Regions from separate parts of the Homo sapiens genome. Here region 1 is linked to region 2. Evidence: fine-mapped expression QTL. A gene starts in region 2. The other region holds a variant in brackets. All regions are shown on one strand. Distances are between the middles of the regions. Region 1 has its middle 160 kb from the start of LINC02497. Region 2 holds the start of PCDH7 (protocadherin 7).

Evidence for each region. PIP is the estimated chance that this variant, and not a neighbour inherited with it, causes the effect.
Region 1: its variant is the best candidate, but not a certain one, in a credible set for the expression of PCDH7 in tibial nerve (GTEx, PIP 0.88).

What each region holds. Positions count from the first base shown.
Region 1 is chr4:31,326,123-31,337,478 of GRCh38, reverse strand. No RefSeq gene overlaps it. Among named protein-coding and RNA genes, the nearest start is that of LINC02497, 160 kb to the right of the region's middle. The variant G/A (reference allele first, on the strand shown) is at 5,485.
Region 2 is chr4:30,715,013-30,726,368 of GRCh38, reverse strand. PCDH7 (protocadherin 7) reads right to left here and starts at 6,000. Exons shown (of 3, transcript NM_001173523.2): 1 at 1,773-6,000. The coding sequence starts at 4,946. LOC124900844 reads left to right here and starts at 7,248. Exons shown (of 1, transcript XM_047416545.1): 1 at 7,248-9,738. The coding sequence starts at 8,462. The coding sequence ends at 9,028. RefSeq lists an enhancer at 4,481-5,191.

The DNA of each region.
Region 1 (11,356 bases), 610 kb before region 2:
CATTTATGGAGCTTGTAATGGTTAAATTTTATATGTCAACGTGGCTAGGCTATCGTATTCAATTTTTAGTCAAACAATGGTCTAGATGTTACTTCACTGTGAAGATGTTTAGTAGAAAAGATTACTATCTACAATCTGAAGACTTTAAGTAAAAGTGATTACCCTAGACAATGTAGGTGGAGCTTATCCAATCAGCTGAAGGCTTAAGAGTAAAAAACTGAGATAACTAATTTTCTGTGAAAGAATTATTTCTAAATAATTGGATTCAGCTAAATTTAATATAATTAGAAACATCCCGATAGATATTTGTTATTAATTATTCATTGGAGTATTTATCAGCTCCAAATGGAAAGAAACTATTTGATTATTTGTATTTTCAAAAATGTTGAGAGTACTTTATATATGCTCAATGCCTATTATGTGCTACCATTACATTTGCTTTACAGTTATCTCAGTAAAAACAAATGCTGGTTTGGATTAAAATATCAATTGTTTTCTATTTAAGAATGAAATTCATGTCAGAAGAACTCAGTTAAGGAAGTCTACAATTTCCTTTGTAACAATATTTGTACCTTGTGCCATTACTTGATAAACTTCTTTTATCTCAGATGCCATGCATAGTTCTGAGAATGCAGAAGTAAAAGATAATTCAAAATCTATGGTGGTGTTAGTCTATTAGGAGAAATATTCATAGATGGTGGAAATATAGGAAGTATATTTGGAATGATGTTTCAGACATGGGACACCATGTGCTGGGACACCTTAAAGAGAATGAAATAATGAATTCGACAGTCATGGTAACCAACGTATATTGAGAATACATGGCGCATGTGGAGGATATTGCTGAGGGACTGAAATCAGACAGTCCACCATGGTTACATTTTCTGATCTGTATTTTTTATATATACAATTTAGTATAGTATGGCTATGTGTCCCTGCCCAAATCACATGCTGAGTTGTAGTCCCCAGTGTTGGATGTGAGGCCTGGTGGGAGGTGATTGGATTAAGGGGGTGGATTTCTCATGGGTTAGCACCATCCCCTCGGCGCTATTCTCATGGTAGTGAGTTCTCATGAGATCTGGTTGTTTAAAAGTGTACGGCAGCTCCCCCTCCATGCTCTCTTGCTCCTGTTTTTGCCATGTGACATGCCTGTTCCCTTTCCACCTTTCAGCATTATAAACTTCCTGAAGCCTCCCCAGAAGCTGAGCGGATGTTGGCATTACGCTTCCTGTACAGCCTGAAGAACCATGAGCCAATTAAACCTATTTTCTTTATAAATTACCCAGCCTCAGGTATTTCTTTATAACAATGCAAGAATGGCCTAAAACACAATGATAAACCAAAAAATAAAATTCTAAGCCCATAAACCTACTGAATGGACCCCTCTTTTGCCAAGGGCATTTCAAAGATAACCTGAAAAGCTAGTTCAGGCCCTGTGGGAATAGGTGTCCCCTTGCCCCCGCAGCCCCCCGCACCTCCCCACCAACATGCCTCATTATAACCTCCTCCCTTTGGAATGCAGGCACAACCGACCAGCATTAACATTAAAACAGAGACCTTAAAACTGACAGTGGTGTCTTTGTATCAAAAAAATATCAGCATGACAGATAGCAGGCCCTAAAAAACATGGAAATATTTTATCTCAAAGTATATTTATTTGACATATTTTGAAATGGTATTGCAAAACTGTCTTTTGCAGGGAAAATGTACATTCTGCACAGAATCCTTTTCCTCTTCCAGGTCTTTTCTGTGATCCAGGAGGAGAATTAACTAAGAGTCTGACACCTTTATAAGTCTAAAAAGAAACATTTATAATCTATTCTCTCTGAGGCCTGCCACCTGGATGCTTTATCTGTATAAAAAGAACCTTGGTCTCCACAACTCCTTGTCTTAACCCAGACGCTCCCTTTCATTGATTCCAGGTCTTTAAGTGATAATTGTTCTCTTTCAACCAATTGCCAATCAGAAAATCTTTGAATCCACCTATAACCTAGAAACCTCCCCAAACTGCCACCCCACTCCCAACCTGATATATAACTTACATGTATTGATTGATGTCTTATGTCTCCCTAAAGTGTGTAAAACCATGCTGCAGCCTGACCACCTTGGGCACATATTCTAAGGGCTTCTTGAGACTGTGCCTTGGGCCATGGTCACTCATATTTGGCTCGAAATAAATCTCTTCAAATATTTTACAGAGTTTGATTCTTTTTGTTGACACAATTTTGTATCTGGAAAAAAGAAACAAAAATGTTTTTTATGGAAATTGAATGATCTTATTCGTAAAATGACTAATATATAATATCCAATCCAAAATATGGTAGCTTTTTTTATTAGCAGTGTTGACCTCATAAAACATGATCTAGTGGATATACAATTTCTGGCACATAGGGAATGCTCACACATGCTCTGTCTCTTTACTTTCATGTCACTTCTATCAACTACTCTTTAAACTCATCATATGTCAATCACTTATTCCTGTTTCTGATACATCACATACACCTGAATATTGGTAGGTAGCTTTATAAATGCACACACAGAAATCTGTATCTTTTCAACCACCAAGCATTTTAAGTACCTCTTTTGATGATGTTCAAAACCCTTAGTGAAGTGATTTCTACATAATACTATTACTTCTAACTGGTTACATAACAAAATATGTGGCCAAATTACTAATATAAATAAAAAAAAAATTCAGCGGTATAAAAAACCCTTTGGGAATGTAAACATTGGTTTGGGAATTGGAAGATGTAGGTTTTAGAGCTAGCTATAATACTAATTACTGCAATATGTTTTAAAAAGCTCTTAAAGTTCACCATTATAAAATAAACAAGTTAAATTAAAAGATTCGTGAGGCCCCTTTTGGCTCAAATATTTCAAAATTGTGGACATTTATACTCTGAGTCATATACAAACAAATATCACCAAAAGAAATTATAGAAGATACTGTTAAATCACTGGTATCTAAGCAATGAATTTGGTGAAACTTTTAATTGTCTTGGGATTATAGTATCAATAAAAAGAAATAAATGTGTCATGACATTTTGGGGCATATAAATACTTGGATGTCTGAATAATGTAAGCTAAAAACCCAAAATCATCTCTCTCTCTCTTTGTCCTTATAAGGCAAGCCTCTTAAATATCAGAGCCCTCTAGTAAAGTCTGCAAAGTCAACAATCCATTCTTGGGACAAATGTTTGAGGTATGAGCTATGGCCTGAGATTCTATTTAGGAGAAAAGAGGTGAAATGATCCTGAATGCCTGGGGTCACTATTTACTTTCCCATAGTCAACAATCAGATAAATCTAGATTCCATCACAAGTAGAGATTGACTAGCTGTTCTATAGGTACTTCCTTTCTTTCAAACATTGATAGTACATTTCTTCACATGCAGTTTAACTTGTGCCTCTCTGGGTAGGAGTTTCTTCCTAAGGGAAGTAGTTGATTTACTCAGCAGTTGCGTTTTTCTTGGAGTACCAAATCATGGTTTGTAGTTCCAAAAAGTGGCTATTCTCCCAAGTGTCCCTCTATTGTCACAGCCTGTCCTGACATTTGATACCAAATGTGATGTGTAGGTTGGGCGTGTAGGTTTATTAATAAAATCTGTCTAATAACCAAATGTGGCAACAGTCACTTGTCTTAGTCTCAAATACTTGGAACAGTTGTTCCCAAGAACTGGAAATATTTCTACATTTCTAAGGAAATTTTTTTAGGTTTCTAAATCAAGACATTTGTTTCCAGAGCATAGAAAACTATATCTCCCAAATGCCACCAGAATAATACGTATAATTTGTTTTGAAACAAAGTATTAGTTACGTTTTTATCACCAATAGCAATAGATACATAACATTAACTGAAGTACTGTTGACTTCTTTGCAGATTTTTAAACTATAATAAAGACTAATTAACAAATGAGAATCAAAGATTTATATGCTTTACAATATTATGCCAAAATCGTTTTTTTAACAAGATTCTGTCTGTCCAATGACAAACATTTTAGTGAAACTGTATATAAACTTAGTTATCCAACTACTTTAGCTACTTGATGCTATACTAGAATTTCTTTTATCATGGATGCTAAATCATATATTTAAACTGATTAAAAGTTAAGAAAGATATATCCTTCTATCTCTCATTAAGATGTTTAAATTTAATGTAGTAGTTCTCAAAAGTAAGTCATTTACATATTATGCTTATGTTTTTGTGCCTTATTTGTTTACCAGCTTTACTATTTATTTTTATATTGCTTTTCTTTTTGTGATTAATAAATGATTTAAAAAGAACATTTTTATGATCATTGTAATAATTAATACCATTATGTCAGAATATTATTTAATATTAAAAAATTTTTAAATCAACCAAAAAAATTAGCCATTAATTTAATCAATGTAATAATTGCATGCCTAATAATTAATTTTTCAAACAGAATAACATGTTTATTATCACCAAATAATAGATTTTGAATCTTTGAAACTTAATTAACATTAATATGAAGCTTAATATAGTAGAACAATTCCATTGCTTTTAATATTAGCCTATTAATGATAATCTCAACTGAAAATGTACATATTTGGAAATTGGAAGCACCGAGTTCTTTTGTATTAATTTATGGTATAGATAATTCATTATTAGTGAAAATAAGATAAATGACTTTGCATAAGAAAATTTCCTTTAAAAAAAATCTGAGGTGTTCTCTAAATTTTGTTCTTCTGAATGTGTCAAGTAATCTGGTAATGTGTGAAATACCAGGGAACAAGAGCATGTCTCAGCAATACAGAAGTGGTGTTCATCCGGGAAATTATGTGTGAAGGCCACTTACTTTTGTTATCCTTCAATGATGTCTTTATAATGGTCAAAATACTTTTCAACAACTATTTTTAAATAAGTTAATAACTAAGTCATTCTGACACGTAAAATAATCTAACATGCCATGATCATGGCTTGATGACTGATGCTCCAATTTTGTCATTAATTAATTTACTCTTTCACTTGGAAAACTGATACAAATGAATTTTGTAAGGTTGTCCAATTGTGCTGACAGCTCTGAAAAATATCCTGATATAAAAGGCAGTCCCTAGTGATGCATACATCACAACGTATTAAAGGTTTTAGCCAGAAAACGAAAGTTGTTATTTTGCCTCAAATAGAAAAGGATGGATTTTGCAGCATTTAAAAAAAATAGATTTCACTACAAAACTATGTTTCTCGTAATTTCCCATTTCTAGATAAATATTAGAAAATATTTCAAGAGTTCAATGGCCTCTCTTTACTATGATTGATATATTTTTACAACTTTAAGTACGCTTTTCTTGCATGTCTGGGTGGTGTGGGGTAGAGGATGGTGGGTGTAGGATACCAGGACATTACTTCCTGTGATACGGTTTGACTATGTGGAACAAGCCCTCATTGTGCATCAACTGTGAATGTAGTGCCTTTCATGCTTATCCCAATAAGTCACTTCCAGATTATGTCATGAACTTATCA[G/A]TAGGTTTTTTTGTTTTGTTTTGTTTTTTTGAGACAGAGTCGTGCTCTTGTTGCCCAGGCTGGAGTGCAATGGCGCGATCTCGGCTAGATGCAATCTCCGCCTCCCAGGTTCAAGCGATTCTCCTGCCTCAGCCTGCTGATTAGCTAGGATTACAGGCACCAGCCACCACGCCCAGTTAATTTTTGTATTTTTAGTAGAGATGGGGTTTCACCACGTTGGCCAGGCTGTTCTCGAACTCCTGACCTCAGGTGATCCACCCACGTTGGCCTCCCAAAGTGCTGGGATTACACGCGTGAGCCACCACGCCCCGCCATCAGTAAGTTTTAAAATCCCTACTCCAGTTGTACTCATTGGCAAAGACTGGCAGAACAAAAGGTCTCCATGGTCTCAGTGTTTAGCACGTACATAACACACACTTAATACTAAGAGAACATCAGAGGATTAACTGACAGTGAATAGAATACATTTTACTATAGTCATGAAAATATTTACTGCCTTCAGTTTGGGGCTATATTTGTAATTTTATAGTACACTATTTCTTTTGACAGAAGCACCTTACCAGTTCCTTTGCTTGTATTGACCCAATTTATTATTTAAAACGTCTTCGCAGCATATTTAGTGTTTATTTACTATGACTCCAGAAACTATAAGCTTCACAAGTTAATAAAATATAATAAATAAATATTCTTATATTTTTATTGAATTGGAATGCTAAAAAATTTCTAAAATTCTGGGATATCATTTTCTTTTTCTTTTCTTCTTTGGAAGTTTTACAACAGTCTTTGAGGTCAGACACTATAATATCAAATTGTGTGTCTGTGAGTGTGGGTCATTTCAGAATGTAGAAGCATGTCTAAACCTAAAGGAATTAGTTTGCTTTTGTTTATGACTTCATGAAAATTTTGATTTCAAATGCTTTTTCATAATATTTTGAATATTTGCTTTGCAGCTGATACTTTTACAATATTAACAGAAAACTAAGATTATCAATTAACGTGTCTCTTTGAAGACATAAAGATTTAATCACAATCAAACCTGACAATGCTAATAGTAGTAGGAGTAGCAGCTACAATTTAATATGTATACTATATGTCTGATATTATTCTGAATATGTTAATTCCATTGAAGTTTTTTAGCACTCATGATATATTTAAGTAACTTCCACTTGTATGCATTAACAGTCCTGTTTTAAAAAAAAATATTATCCAAAACAGGTTCAATAAAGAACAAATTAACACAAAAAGATAAAAACTTATGTGTATTTGTTACATACATGTTTTATTATAAGTTTTGTTATACAGATACTCCTTGACTTACAATGGGATTATGTCTTGACAAACTTATCATAAGTCAAAAATATTGTAAGTTGAAAATGCTTTTAGTACCCCAACAAACCCATTGTAAAGTTAAAAAACTGTAAGTCAAACCACCATTAAGTCAGCACCATCTATATATATGTATCTGTGTATATGAATGTGTACATACATGCATAGTATATTAATATATTAATTATATATTAATTATTATTATATATTATATTAATATATATTAATTAGATATAAAATATATTTTAATTATATTAATATATATGATGTGCGTGTATTGCTATAGTCTGAATGTTTGTGTCCCCTCCAAAATTTATATGTCAAAACCCAGTTCCCAATGCAATAGTATTAGGAGATGCAGACTTTAGGAGATGATTGGCTCATGAGGGCTGAGACCTCATCAATGAAATTTGTGCCCTTATAAAAGAGTCCTCAAGCCTCTTCTGCCCTGTGAGGATGCATAGAGAAGATGCCTCTTATGAAACAGAAAACAATTCTTACCAGACACTGAATATGTCAGCGCCTTGATCTTGGACTTCCCAGCCTCCAGAACTGTTTGAAATAAATTTTAGTTGTTTATAAGCAACCCAGTTTATGGTATGTTCTTATAACAGCCCAGATGAACTAAGGGGTGTGTGCGTGTGTGTGTGTGTGTGTGTGTGTGTGTGTGTCTTGAAAACAGCACACATACTTATTTTGTTTATACATATTTAGCAGGCTTAATATTAACTTCCTGAAGTGGAGTTCCAATACTCTGAAGAAAAAACTAAGATAAAATACATGTCAGTTAAGTATATGAAATCCCATGCCTCCAGTTTATATGATCCTACTATCTATACTTATAAACTACGATGATAACACTTTCAGTTTTGTCGGTTCAACCCCTTCATTGGTTTTCTGAGCGCCACATCTGTAATTCACTTGATCATCCTAAGGCAGATTACTATGCCACTGCTTACTGGAGCATCATCCTAAACCAGCAAAACCAAGCAATATTCTATGTTTAGTGTGTTGGTTATATTTTTCTAATGTGCATGGAAGCAAATACCCAAATACTAGAATAATTACTACATACCTACCAGATTAAGCTTTCATAAAATTAAGATTTCATATAGGTAATTTCACAAATTACCTATAAAATTATGGTAATAATTAGAGGTACTCTTTTTGAGCTGAGAGAATATAATATTTTCACTTCATCTATCCTTATCACTTGGTATGTCAACAGTGCCTTTGGTTGTTGTTAATGCTCGCGTTATCCCCTTGAGAATAAGAAAATGATGGGGATCGGGGGGGTAGGATTGCAAGAGAAGGAACTACAGAAAAGCTCAAAGTTACATTGCAGAAAGACTCTGTAAAAAAAAAAATACACAAATAAGAATATATGGATATTGCAGCTGTTAGTACCAGAACTGATGACTGTACATAAAACATTGAAGCAAGTGAATATTTTATTCTCTCCTCTCTGACTTTCTAAAATGATACAGAAGCTTGCATGTTCTGGGCACTATTCCCAGAAGTATTGCATTTTCTCCCCAAATCCACAGATGCTCTTCTGGGAACGAGGTGGCAGCACTGACAACACAAATGAGCTGACAGTGTGCAACCATTCCTGGAAGCACTGCCTTCTGGAGATGAGACTTTCAAGAAAAAAACACTAAATTTAATTCAATAAAAAAACACCCACTAAATTTTAATTCCATTCTGTTCTTCACATATCCTACATATTTTAAAAATTCACAGATTACTATTAGGTGAGAGGGAAAAGCTAGTTGCGGTTCTTTGGAGAAATTGCTAATATATTTTTTGAAACTGGAGACATGATGGTTTGAGTTACTGAAGACTGGAGTTTCTGAGGCACCATACAAATAAAAACTGGAAAGAGTCATTTAACCACCAACAGATCCATTTTATTACCCTTTGCAGGAGCATACCACACTGCAAAGTGCTTACTTTAAAACTAAAACAGTTATTGATAATACAGAAAATACAGTCCTTTGTTATCATAACTTGTATTTTGTAGTGATTTTATCTCAGATTCATAGGTTAATAATTTTTCAAAGTAATCTTAGTATTTATGGACCAACTTTTTCATTTTATAAATCCTTAGAGATAAAGTGACTTACTCAGGATAAGCCAGCCATGACACAAATGGAACTCTCCCAAATTCAAAGGCAATATTTCACTTTTATCAATTTCTAAAGGCCAGGCATAGTGGCTCACACCTTTAATCCCAACACTTTGGGAGGCCTGGGCTCAAGGATCACCTGAGCCCAGGAGTTCAAGACCAGCCTGCACAACATAGTGAGACCTCATCTCTACTAGAAATAAAACAATTAGCCGGTGTGGTGGTGCACACCTGTAGTCCCAGTTGCTTGGGAGGCTGAGCTGGGAGGATCACTTGAGCCCAGGAGGTCAAGGCTACATTGAGCTATGATTGTGCCTCTGCAGTCCAGATTTGAAGACAGAATAAGACCCTCTCAAGAAAGAATGAGAGAGAGAGAGAGAGAGAGAGAGAGAGAGAAAGAATTTCCAAAGAGTTTCAAATTTGTCTCATCTGAGAAATCTAGAGACCCTGCAGAGGTATTATTATTCTTTTTTTCAAATAAGAAAATGGAAGCCCAAACCATTTAAAGAAATTGCTTTACAACATATATTTAGTAGGATAACAAAACTTAAACCCACAATACAAGATTCTCTCTATATGATAAATACAATTGACCCTTGAGCAACACAGGGGTTGGGGCACTGATTCCCTGTGGCTAAAAATCCACATATAACTTTTGACTCCCCCAAAACTTAACTACTAATGCCCTGCTGTTGATCAGAAACCTTACCAATAATATAAACAGTCGATTAACACATATTTTGTATGTATTATATGTCATATCCTGTGTTCTCATAATAAAGTAAGCCATAGAAAAGAAAATGTTAGCAAGAAAATTATAAGGAAGAGAAAATACATTTACTATACTATACTGCATTTATCGATACTGTAAATTTACATCATTTGTTTACAAGATGAATTGTCTGAAATGGGGCAACCTCAGCTGCAGATCTCAATGTATGGTGTATATCGAATGATTCAACTTTTTCTTGTTATGTCATGACATTTTTCTGCTTCCTGAGAGCACTCCCAGCATCACTAGTGGCACTTCGTGCTGGTCCCATGGTGTTATTCAAAGTTTATGATACTGCACTAAACATGGTGAAAAACAAACAATAGGCCAGCACGGTGGCTCACACCTATAATCCCAGCACTTTGGGAGGCCGAGCTGAGTCAGGTGGATCATGAGGTCAGGAGTTCAAGAACAGTGTGACCAATATGGTGAAACCCCGTCTCTAATAAAAATACAAAAATTAGCCCGATGTGGTGGCAGGTGCCTGTAATCCCAGCTGCTCCGGAAGCTGAGGCAGGAGAATTGCTTGAACCTAGGTGGCAGAGGTTACAGTGAGCCGAGATCATGCTACTGCACTCCAGCCTGGGTGACAGAGTGAGACCCTGTCTCCACACACACAAAAAAAATAATAAATAAATAAAAAATAAACCCTAGAGATTACTTTTTACTGCAATAAATAATTTACTGGAAAGGAACTTCTCACGTGGAGCTGATTAGCACCATACACACCACACTGTTTTAAGTAGATACTCGCAATACTTGAGCTCACCACACCAGCAACCAGAGGTGGGTACAAAATTTTTATAGTAGTACAGTATAGACTACAGTTAATTTTATGCAGTTATAATTGTATACTGCATGGTTACATTTGTTTACATTTCTCTCAGCTGTAAATGGTACCATGTGCAATCTGTAAATGTGTGTGTAGATTTTGATAAAATTTAACTTTTTATAGTATATTTGTGTACCACATTCTTTTGTAGTAAATGATAAAATCAACTAGTATCTACATATATTTTATGAATTCATGACATATCTGAATTTTTCTTATTCTTTTGATATGTCTAGCCTACTCAGTTCATCTGCAAGTATTTTTCAAATTGTTATAATTCTGAAAAAATTTCAAAATATATTCATTTTTTAAAAATATGTGTATAAGGGGACCCATGTAGTTTAAACTCTTGTTTTATTGTCAACTATATTTACTCTTAAAGTAGAAAATTATTTTTCCTAATATTTTCTACCTAATATTTTTGTCAAGTTACATGAAAGGAAGTTCTCTGATGTTGTTTGGATGTGTCCCCACCCAAATCTCATTTTGAATTTGCACCTGTTGTGGGAGGAACCTGGTGGAAGGTAATTGAATCATGGGGGCAAGTCTTTCCCATGCTGTTCTCGTAATAGTGAATAAGTCTCACGAGATCTGATGGTTCTATAAGGGTGTGTTTCCCTGCACAAGCTATCTCTCTCTTTGCCCGACACCATCCCCGTAAGATGTGACTTGCTCCTCTTTGCCTTCTGCCATGATTGTGAGGCCTCCCCAGCCATGTGGAACTTTAAGTCCAATAATCTTCTTTCTTTTGTAAATTGCCCAGTCTTGGGTATGTCTTTATTAGCAGCCTGAAAACAGACTAATATACTCTCTT
Region 2 (11,356 bases):
TAGAACGCAAATGCTATCCAGACACAGGACAGAAGTACCATTAGGATAAGAACCGAGGTGTAAATATTCTGCAGACAGATCTCTTCACACTCCTTTGCATTAGGTGTTACTATTTTCTAGAGAAATGTCTACAAATCTCAATTTATTTTTGAGTGTTTAATCTGTAAAAAGTGCTACCATTTTAGCTAGAATCTTCCTTGTTTACAACACCAATAAAAGCACCAAAACAACACAAAAATCAGCTTCTCACTCCATGTAACACAATAATACAACAGATATAAACACTCCACTATGTCAAATGTTGGTTTAAAATAAATAAATAATTCAAATTCACATACACCAAAGGACATATTTTCAAAAGCCATTTAATGCAAATGTAGTTTGAACTGGTGTTTTCTTGGATTGCATTTGTTATTAGATATAAAAGTATATTCAGACTGTTTCTCCTTATCTGAATAGCTACAGTAAAGTACTATATACAGAAAATATTTATTTAAAATACTAATTTCAATAATCATGAAAGCAATTAAGAATTCATATCTCTTTCTATAACTATAATCTTCAATGAGGCTATAAAATAACTTTTTCCTTTGCCTCAATTCTTCTCGGATTCCACATTCCACATGCAAAGCATGTTTAATAGAAATTAGATTGACAATCATAACTGTGTTTCTTGAGATGGGTTCTGACAGTAAGAAATACGTAATGTTTTATTAGCTGAGGTTGCTGTACCATGAGACACAGTCCTTTCCAAAAGGTCTTGTTTGCTGTGTGGCAAACTTTGGTAGATATACAAAGTAAACTTTCTGAGGATGCTATATTACACGAGGAAAACTTTCAAAAATAAATTTCAGATTTGCTTAAGTTCCGCCTCAGAATATATGTATTTTTTACTGTTTCCACATTTCACTGAGAAACTATTATGTCAAATATTCCACATAATCTTTACATTCTCAATATATCATAATGCATACCAAAATAGTCTTGCACACAGTACATCAATCATGAATATTTTCATTACTTGGCTTAAATAATAAATGGCTCATGCAATGTATTTTTGTTTGCAAACTTTTAATACCAAACAGAAAGAATGCAAATGGTAATTGCATATCATTATAGAACACTAATTGTTATAGGTATCGATTATTATAGATATAAAAGATTGAAAGTGGAGTTTTGCATGACATTTGCATATCAGTAAATATTTTTAAACCAGCAGTTTCATCAAAGTAGTCAGTATTTCAATATCTCAGACTTAGTACTACATCTGCATGAATCAGCATCTATTTATCTGTAAAATCCTGCATTGTAAATAACATAGCTAAAACTTCTATGGAATCCAATTTGCATAGACACCAGTAGTAACTTTAGAAACTTTTTCTCTGGATGTAATTATCCACTTAGTTGCCACAGAAGAAAATAATTTCAGGTGAAAACTAACCATCTAAGTAATACACACATATTTATTCTGGAAACAAAAAAATGTAGTATGAATTAGGGATGTCAAGTGCAAAGAGAACTGCCAAACACTGCCTACTCTGAATACTTCTTTCAGTAGTTTAGTGAACCTTAATTCTAATTTGCAAAATACAGTGGTATACCTCTTGTAGATGGCCTTTGCTAAATTAATGGTGCAAAAATTAACATTAAATTCCTACTGTTAAAATTTTAATAACTTTAAAAACGAGAAGACAAAACTTTACAGAAGATAATCTGTCTCAGAGTTATTAGCCCTCCCTGGGATATTTAAATATATTTGGGATACATCTTACCTGTTTGCTGTACTTGTTATTGGTTTGACAGCTGTACTCAGAGCAGTGATCTGATCCAATTGAAATGTTGTCTCCTGCTCCCACAAATGTGTTGGCTGGTGGTAGATCTTGTACGGCCTGGTGTTTTTTTCCTGCAGTTGGTGACTGGGGATGAAGCTGAACAGTAGGCAATGGGGAACTAGATTTGTAATGCCTTGCCAGGTCAGGACTGCCGGGCCCACCATTAACGGACCTGTATCGCCCCATGCTTGGGCTGTCTGACAGCTTCTCATTGACACTATCATACCTCTGTCCATTTGGCTTAGAAGCCTCCACAGTGACAATGCTGCTGTAGAGAGGCTGCTTAGATTTTTTGTTTTTCTTGTCCTTTTTAGGCTTTTTAGATTTGTCATGCTGTTGGGGTGTAAAAAAGTCTTCGTGATCTTTTTTGCCGGCTTCATAGCCATTTTTATTTTTGGACCTGCAGTACCTTGCCATCACTACAATTAAGATGATTAGAATCACCGTCATAATGCCAGCAACCACGCCAATGACAATACTGAGTCTCTGTTTGCTAATTTCATAGCTTGGGTCACCAGCTATATCCTGGGTGAGTGGGATGTGCAAACTTCTAGCTATCTGGGAGTCAATCGCAGTTGCATTAGAAACACTTTCATTGACAAACACGTGCACCAGAGTCGTGGTGGACTGGGAAGGCTGCCCACTGTCATTCACTTGCACCACCAACCTGTGCAAGCCATAATGCTTTTGGGTGAGTTTTCCCACTAAGGAAACCACACCACTAGTGGGATCAATTTCAAACAGCTTGAAGGGATTTCCTCCCACAATGCTGTAGTTCAGGTCTGCATTGATGCCATCATCACTGTCTGTTGCCAACACTGTAGCTACTACTGTCCTGACATTACTCGAAGGTGGCAGTAAAGTGTAGGAAATGTTTTTGGGAAGGGTAACTGTGGGAGCATTGTCATTTTCATCCATCACAAAAAGCGAGACTGTAGCTGTGGCAGATCTGGGAGGATCTCCCCCATCCACAGCCTTGACTCTGAAAGTGTATGTGGTCTGATGTTCCCGGTCAAAAGACATTGTGGAGTAAATGGTCCCCGTGTCATTTTCAATAGAAAAAATGTTATTGTTCTCCTCTATGTACAGGCTCATCTCTGCATTCCGCCCCTTGTCAGCATCCATCACGGTGACCATCCCCACAGGGCTGTTGGGCTGCAAGTTTTCTTTCACATAAAAGGTGAAGACGTCCTGCATAAACTTAGGGTCATTGTCATTTTTATCAGCCACCTGCACAATCACCGTAGTGCTGCCCTGCAGCACGGGGATGCCTTTGTCTTTGGCGTTAACTTTAAACTCATACCTGTCAGTCTGCTCGCGGTCCAGCACGGTATTGACCAGGATGTCCCCAGAATCGGGATCGATGGCAAAGATCCCCATCACAGAGGAGTCCAGCGAGTAGGCGATCTCGGCGTTCTTACCGCTGTCTGCGTCTGTCGCCAGCACCGTGGCCACCCTCTCGCCCGGGATGTTGTTCTCAGGGAAGTAAACCTCCACCACCGACTGGCCGAACATGGGCGGGTTGTCGTTGGTGTCTCCCACCTTGACAATCAGGGAGTTGTTGCTCGAGAGGCTGGGGCTGCCTGAGTCCACCGCCACGATGACCACGTTGAACTCCCGGGTGGCCTCATAGTCCAGAGGGGTCGAGGTGTGCAAGAAGTACTTTTTCTTGTTCTGGTCGCCCTCGGTGTCGCTGGCTGGCTTGAGCTGGAAGGGCACGTCGCCCACCACGGTGCAGGTGACCACCCCGTTCTCGCCTTGGTCTCGGTCGGACACCTGCACCAGAGCGATGGGGGTGTCGACCAGAACGTCCTCGGCCACGTTGGCCACCCCGTCCTTGAGGGGGATGCGCCCAATCTTGCGGATTTCAATGGACGGCACGTTGTCGTTCTCGTCTTTGATGTTAAGGACCACGGTGGCCTTGTCGGTCTTGGGGGGCTGCCCGCGGTCGCGGGCCATGACCGTGAAGCGCAGCTGGTTCACCTCCTCGCGGTCGATCCGGTGCAGGACGCTGAGCCAGCCGGACGTCTCGTCAAGGCGCAGCAGCCGCCTCACCGACTCGGTGGCCGCCCCGAACACGTATTCGATCTGCCCGTTGACCCCCACGTCCAAGTCGGCTGCGCGCAGTTGCAGGATGGGGGTCCCCGGGGCGCTGTTCTCAGCCAAGTCGGCCTCGTACACGCTCTTCTCGAAGCGGGGGCTGTTGTCGTTCACGTCGGTGATGAGGACCCGTAGGATGGCCTGCGAGGAGCGAGGCGGGTCGCCGCCGTCGCGCACTCGCAGGGTCAGCTCGTAGGAGTCGCGCTGCTCGCGGTCCAGCGCCCCCTTCACGATCAGCTGCGGCTGCTTCTCGCCGTCCGGGGTGTCCGCCACCTGCAGCTCGAACACGCTGCTGCGGCCGCCGGGGTTGGTGCCGCCGCCGCCCTCTGATGCGTCCAGCCGCCGCTTGGAGCCTCCCGAGCCGCCGCCGCTCGCGCCGTTCCCGCCGCCCCCGGGGTAGGGGGCGCTGTCGGCCGCCCCGGCGCGCCGGCTCTCGCCGCCGCTGCCGCCGCCTCCGGGCTCCTGGAGCAGCTCGTAGCGCTCGATGCCGTTGCGGCCGAAGTCGCGGTCGGTGGCTGTGGGCAGCAGGTAAAGTGTGCCCACCGGCCGATTCTCCTCCACCGTGAGCGTGAGCACGGGCGACGGGAAGGTGGGCGTGTTGTCGTTGATGTCAAGCACGATGACCTGACCCTCAAACAGGTCCACCCAGCTCTGCGAGGGCCCGATCACCGACACCTCGAAGTCCAGGAAGCACTCGTTCTCGTCGAAGATCATCTGACACTGGGGCAGCTTCTCGCGGTCGATGCGCCGCTCGCTCGTGCTCAGCTCGCCAGTGAGGTTGTCGATCTTCAGGTACTCGGAACCGGACTCCAGGCTGAAAGTCACCTCACCCGATCCGGTCACGATGCCCAGGTCTGAAGCCACGTTGCCGATGCGGACGTCGGCGGGGCCCTCCTCGGCCAGCCGGTACCGGAGGAGCTGCTTGGCGGCCGCCAGGCTGAGCGAGAGCGGCAGGAGGAGGCAGCAGCCCAAGCACCAGCCGCGCGCCCATCCCGCGGTCCGCATCCTCAGCATCTTCTCCTGCTGCTGCTGCTACTGCTCCTTCTAACCACAGCCCCCTCGGCGCCCCCCTCCTCCGGGGCCGGCCGCCTGCCCTCCCCCGAGTCCTCTCCCCTCTCCCGGAAAGGAAGGAGCGAGAGGGAGGGGAGGGAGGGGGCAAAAGCGGCGTGGAGAGTTGGCCGGGAATGGGGGTGGGAGGGCAGCGATAGATGCTTCTTTTTTTCCTCCTGCTTCTTCCGAAAGTTATTGTTTCATAATTCATGCAATGGGTGCTAATCGCCCGCTCGCCTGCCGCCGTTCAGTCGCAGTACTCACAGTTCACGGGACACTGCGCGCCGCGGGTTCGGCGCTCCCCCAACCCAGAGTCATCCCCTCAGCGGGCGGAGAATCCCCGGCTCTAGTCCCCGCTCTGTCGGAAGGGGCCAGAACCGCTCCGGCAGACGGGCAGTGGGGCTGGGAAGAGGTGGGGAATGAGCCTGCAGCCTCCCCCGCCTGCCAGCCCGCTGGTCTTTGCTGCTACTCGAGTTGAGTCCAATTCACGTTCCAGGCACTCACTCCAAACCCAGGCTCTGCTCCGGCTCCGGCCACCCAGACAAACGTGAGTCGCTTCCTGCACCAGGCGCTGGGGCCAGCAACAAGCCAGTCTCAACTCCGACTCTGCTCATGCAGCGGGGGAGCCAGTCAACAGATCGAGAATGAAAAATCCCCCGGCACGTCGCTTCGGGCACGGTGCAGGGGAGACTACTCGCGTCACAGAGCGGTCAGTGTCAGGGTCCCCCCGGCGCGCCAAAGAGAAGCCCGAGCCATCTTCAGAGACGCCCAGAGTCAGTCCCTTCTCACCCCGGAGAGCGCGGGTTTCTCTTTTTTCTTAACAACTCTGCGCAAGGTCATTAGTCACGAAGCAGCCGCCTGAAACCGCAGCAGCCTTTCGCCCACGGGGGCGAAGGCTGAGCAGTGCGCACCGTGCGGTGCCCAAGTTTGGGTTCGCAGCCGCAGAGTCCGTGCCTTTTCTCACCTGCATTCGGCCCGCATGTCGGAGCAGTGGGATCTGCAGCGCTGTGCGCGATTCAGGGAGGAGATTGCAGCCTCTCTCTCCCCGCTCTCTCTCGATCCCTCCCCTCCCTCCCTCCCTTTCTCTCTCCTCCCTCCTCTCTCTCCTCCCTCCTCTCCTTTCCCCTTTCCCCCTCTCCCACTCGCTCTCTTGCACGCTCTCTCTCCTTCCCAATGCAGGGAACTCAAGCTGAACTTGATCCCTTTGCAGTTCAAAGGTGAGCAAACCAGGCTCGGAGCACAGGCGACGTTAGCCGGCGAAAGCGCACGGCCGGGCGTCCCCAACGGCAATTAACAAAGATGCCCAATTCTGTCTGGATTTCCGAAGAAAAGCCAAAGGCTTTCGGGCGGGGGTGGAGGGGGAGGTGGAGTCAGAGACAGCTGCCAAGTAGCTTAAAAAAAAAAATCCAGTTTGCCAAGGGGAGAAAAAGTGTCAGTCGGTTGTGGCCTCGGAAGTGCCCTGGCACGGCTGGTGAATTCCGCAGTTGTCTCGTCCCTTTTCGCGTCTGGGAGAGTCTGGTGCGGGCGCTCCCGCCGCCCCTCGGGCTGCAGCGGCTCGGAGACACTGAACCGCTAGTGGGAATCTCCCGTTCGCTACCCGCGAGCAGGAAACCCGCAAGTTGCCCAAAGTGGTGGTTGCTGCTGGGTGCTCGCTCGCTCACGGATCAGGCTTGTCCCTGACGCTGCTGCTGCAGCGGCGGCGGCAGTAGCAGCCGAGCCGCCGAAACTACACACTAGGAGAGAGCGAGGGAGGAGGGCCCGGGATAAGGAGGCGGGAGGGAGCGTCAGCCAGCCGCCGCGCTCGGGAAAGCCCAGCCTCAGCTCCAGGGGCCGCTCAAAGTGTGCCCAATCCCAGCCAGTCCTCTTTAAGCCAAAGCCCAGTCCCCCTCCCTAGCGAGTACCGCCGTCTTCTCTGGGGGACTTGTTTTCCCTCCCTCGGGCTGGTAAATTTCCTCCTCCCTTGACTAATGCCCAGTTCACGCGTGAGAGCTTTCGGAGCTGGTGTCAGGATAGGTTTCTCCTTCTCCCTCCCTCTCAGACGACGTCCTCCTCCCCCCGGAAAGTGTCTCCGGTTCGCGATTTAGGATCTTGGTTAGGACATGGTTATCGGGGTCCTGGGGAACCTACGAGCGCCCAGAAAGCCACTCTGTTCTGAAAAACCATGACGGGCTGCAGTAGTGAAGAGAGAACATCAAACTCCAGAGAGCTGGAGAAAGATCCTTTTTTGGGAGCTCAGACTTTGGATGGTTGCGGGGGGCAGGGGCGGCGGTGGGTGGAGGGTGAAGGATGTCTGTCTTTGTTTAAATGCTTGACATTCCTGTCGTCGTGCTTGCTTGCGGGGGTAGACCGTGTGTGCGCGCCTGGGGAATAAACACATGTTGGAAACCTCGATATTATTTTCTGAGCAGAAACCTGCAGCCTTTAGTAACTGGCAAAGTGTAGCGTCACCTATCTGGATAAAAGGGAAATAAACTTTAATGGCAACTTTGTGTACCAAAGTGTCCCCAGCTTTCCCATCTCTCCTTTTGACTTTGTGTCCCTTGACTGTCCCTATTTCCTGAAGCAAGGCTTCTCCAATTTTCATTCACGACCACCGCAGCCGGCCTCATCAGATCTCAGGTCTGGTTGTGTTTTTGAACTGAGCCATTTACTCATTTATTTCAGTGGCTGTAAACGAAGAGGCCCGGCTAGGATTAAGACGACTGAGACGGACTGTAGGTATTTGGGGAGAATTTTTACCATCTCGAAAGAGAGAAAGGGCCGCTGCTGGGATTTGCTTAGTCTTCAGCTCGCCTGACGTATCCATACACATTTAAGGGCCTCCCCTCAAAGAAAAATTTAAAGCCGAAAAAATAAAATCTGTCCAGTGTGGGTATTCTTTACGAGACCTGGGTGACGAGGCAGAATGATTTAAACAAGACAAACACCAATAAAGTCAACGAGCAGATGTAGCGCGCGGTTGTTTGGGCGGGCGCAGGAACAGGAATGAGGAGGGAGAGGCGGCAGAGATTTCCAAGCTCTCCCTACAGGGGATCGTAGATGCCCGTTGGATGGAAGTGTGTCTAAGTGTGTGTCAGGGAGCTGGCGAGTATTTTCCAGTCTGTGAAAGTAGCATCACCCCAGGGGTGGTGGCTCCTCCTCCGAGGCCAGGGCAGGGAACCCGGCCTTCCCGCTAACCCTCCCGCTGCTGGCACCCGAACCTCTCAGCTCTGTATCTGCAGCATCAGCGAGAAAAGCCCCGCGCGCAGGCTCAGTGCGCACCGCCGCAGTCTCGAGCCGGGGGCGGGGGTGGGCTCCGCAGCGCCTTCGCGGCCGGCTAAGTGGCAGTAAAGCCAAATCCCTCTTACATTTGGCAAGAACCCGGGTTTATCGGAACGCCTGCCTCTCTCCAAACCTCCGACCCTGGTTCCCCTTTTTCCCAGGTTGGAGGCAAATGGGAGAAGCCGTCTCCACTCCGCGGCCTTGCGCCGTGCATTCCGATGCGCGGCAATATGGTGCAGTGCACTCACTCCCCTCATCGCCTTACTAAGATTTTGCAAACTTCAGGCAGCCGCTTGGGCAGAAACGTTGTGCACTCCCTCTTCCCTCTCCAGACCATAAACTTGAATAAGCCTCTCCGCATCTTCAAAGCATTTGCTCGCGGCTCTGGCGCGCACTCTCCAGGCGCACACTTGAGCGGGGCGCGAAGGAGTGGGCGGCTTTTCCTCAGCGCGCTGCACATTTCTTCCCGGATGACTAGGGAGTTGCAGCGCGTCCTTCACAGTGGAGTGGTTTCCTCTTTGCGAGCGGGAGGAAGTCTCCAGCCCGCCCTCCTCACTCTCATTCCTACCAACTTCGCGGCGGAGCCAAGCCAGCGTGGGAAATGGGTCCGACGTGTGCTGCATGGAGAACAGCGAGGACAGACTGCGGGGGCCAAGAAGCCTGCTGGCTTTGCTCCCACCCCCATCAGTCCCAGGCTCCGACCTTTCTGCCAGAGCAGCAAAGAAGTGGCGGCGGCTTTGCCCTGCAGCGCCGTTCTGGGCAAGCAAAGGAAATGGGCGGGGTAGGGGTACGGGGGAGGTGAGAGGAGCCCTCGGGGCGCCCTTGCGGCGGCTGGAGCTCCCAGTCCTCTTCCGCCCCCTCTCTAGGGGCTGACACTCTCTCCTCTCGCCGGCGCAGAGGATGAATGAAGAGAGAAGCAGTTTCTCCCACCCCCGCCCCATTTCCGCAGTCTTAGAGCCAGTGTCACAAGTGCTCAGCAATTTCATTAAATGGAACCGGGAGACTTAATCCCCCCCGGTACCAGACCTCACCGAGGGAATGTGATATCCGGCTTCGCTCCCACCCACCAACCCCCCCCCCCCCCCCCCCCCGGCTTCTCAGACCCGAGGCTGCATTTATCTACTCAACCTGAGAGGAAAGGGTTCAGAAGGAAATGGGATCGAAAGTGTAACCGCCTGCAATAAATTAAAGAGCCTGCTGCTGCTGCTGCTGCTGCTGCTGCTGCTGCTGCTTTGGCGGCCAGAACTGGAGAGAGAAAATGAGATCAGTGCCCTAAAGCTTGCATCGATCAGAGTGATTAGACGTCATCGCATGTAGGAAGCAAAATGTTTGAGGGAATGTTGAAATGGAGATTTCTGTTTTTTCTTTAGTGGCTTTTTAAAAAAGAACAATAAAAGGAAATACCCCTTTGAAATCAAGATGTAAAAAATGAAATTGATTAAAATATAAATATCATCCCGTGCTAATATGCATTTAATAAAACCTTGACAAACGATTCATTTTCTGTGCCAGAAATCTTACCCTAAACTTAAAATATTCAGTAGATTTTTTTTTTTTAATTTACCTACTAACCTCGCTTGCTTAAACCTGTTTTGCCGTTAAGAAATTTCAGTGGCTGAACTGAAAAATAGCATTCAGGGTCCCTGATGTAGTTCAAGCCTCAAGAAAAGACAGTAAGAGAAGTAACTACAACAAAAGTTTATGGTTAAGAATACAAAGTAGATGCTGGAGATGTGATCTCAGGGGGCCTTTCATTTATAATAGACGCTGTATTCACAATAATATGAGAAAAAGGTTAAATACAGTAAACACGATAGCCAGTTCTGGAAAGATAAAAACAGTTTGACAGAAAAGGAGAAAGTAACTCAAGAACTCCACCAAGGGACAAACAGAGGAAATGACACTCGGATATCTCTAAATCCATTGACCTTTCATCTTTTTAAAAAGGGTCTTCTATCTGTAGACGTGTTTTCTAGGCCTTTATGATCAACCATTTCTCTAACCCCTTTCGCTAAATTTGATACTTCAGTCTTCCTTTTCTAAATAATTACTACAAACGATTGTCCTTTAAACATATATTACTTGAAAGAGTAAACATATCTGTGCATAACTATTCCAAGTATGATTCTGATCCTTGAGACTCTGAGAAACTTTAGATATATTTTACAGCCTTAAATCCATGCTTGTAGTATTAACATGTTTAGTAGACTGAAATGACTAAATTATTCATTGCAATAACAGCCTTTTTGATAGACATTAAAACTCATCAGTTTAAATAAGGAAACCACAGATTTCCTTTTAAGCAGGTAATAACTGCTTGCATCAGTGGTTATTTAATTGGTTTCTAGCCAAGACATAGAATAAGTTGTGCTGTTTAAATCAAGAAATCATATGCAAAGCTATATTTTACAGTGTATCTATAAAAGAAGCACACAGAAACTAAACTAAGTTGATTCATACTATCTACTGGATAACTATAAACATTTCCACAAGGCCGATATGAAAATCTCATTTACAAAAAAAAAAAAAAAAAGAAGAAGCTTTGAAAAATAAAATTTTAAGTGTTTATTAGCTCACACGCTGTCTGGTTTTCAGATTTCAATAGAGTGTTTTAGGTTTTAAAATAACACAGAATAAATGATTTTTACCTTAAGTTTAGCACATATTGACAGTTGATTTTTTATTCATTTTCTAAAGGTTTACATGCCAAAATATGTGCAATATAGCAGAGATTTACAAGTCATGACACACATAAAAAGATCCAGTCAGTGACTATAACTGGCATTTGTCTTTTACTTACAAGATCATTAGTTTATGAATTTTTTCAACTTTACATTAATTTTCATACATTTACAAAAATGTAAGTTGGGGGCACACAGTATTTTATAAAATCTGGATTACTTCTGGGAAAAAGACCCTTGATAGGTTAAAAGCAGTACATCCTATTATTTAGGGTCATCTGAAGCTATCTCCTTTCACTATTGATGGTAAAATTAGACCTACCAATGCCCTTTGCAGTACGAACTTGGGAGATTTGCATATTTTTACTATCGTGGCAGGATATATCAAATACTGCTGTGGATAATGACCTCTAAGCTAGATAACATGTTAAG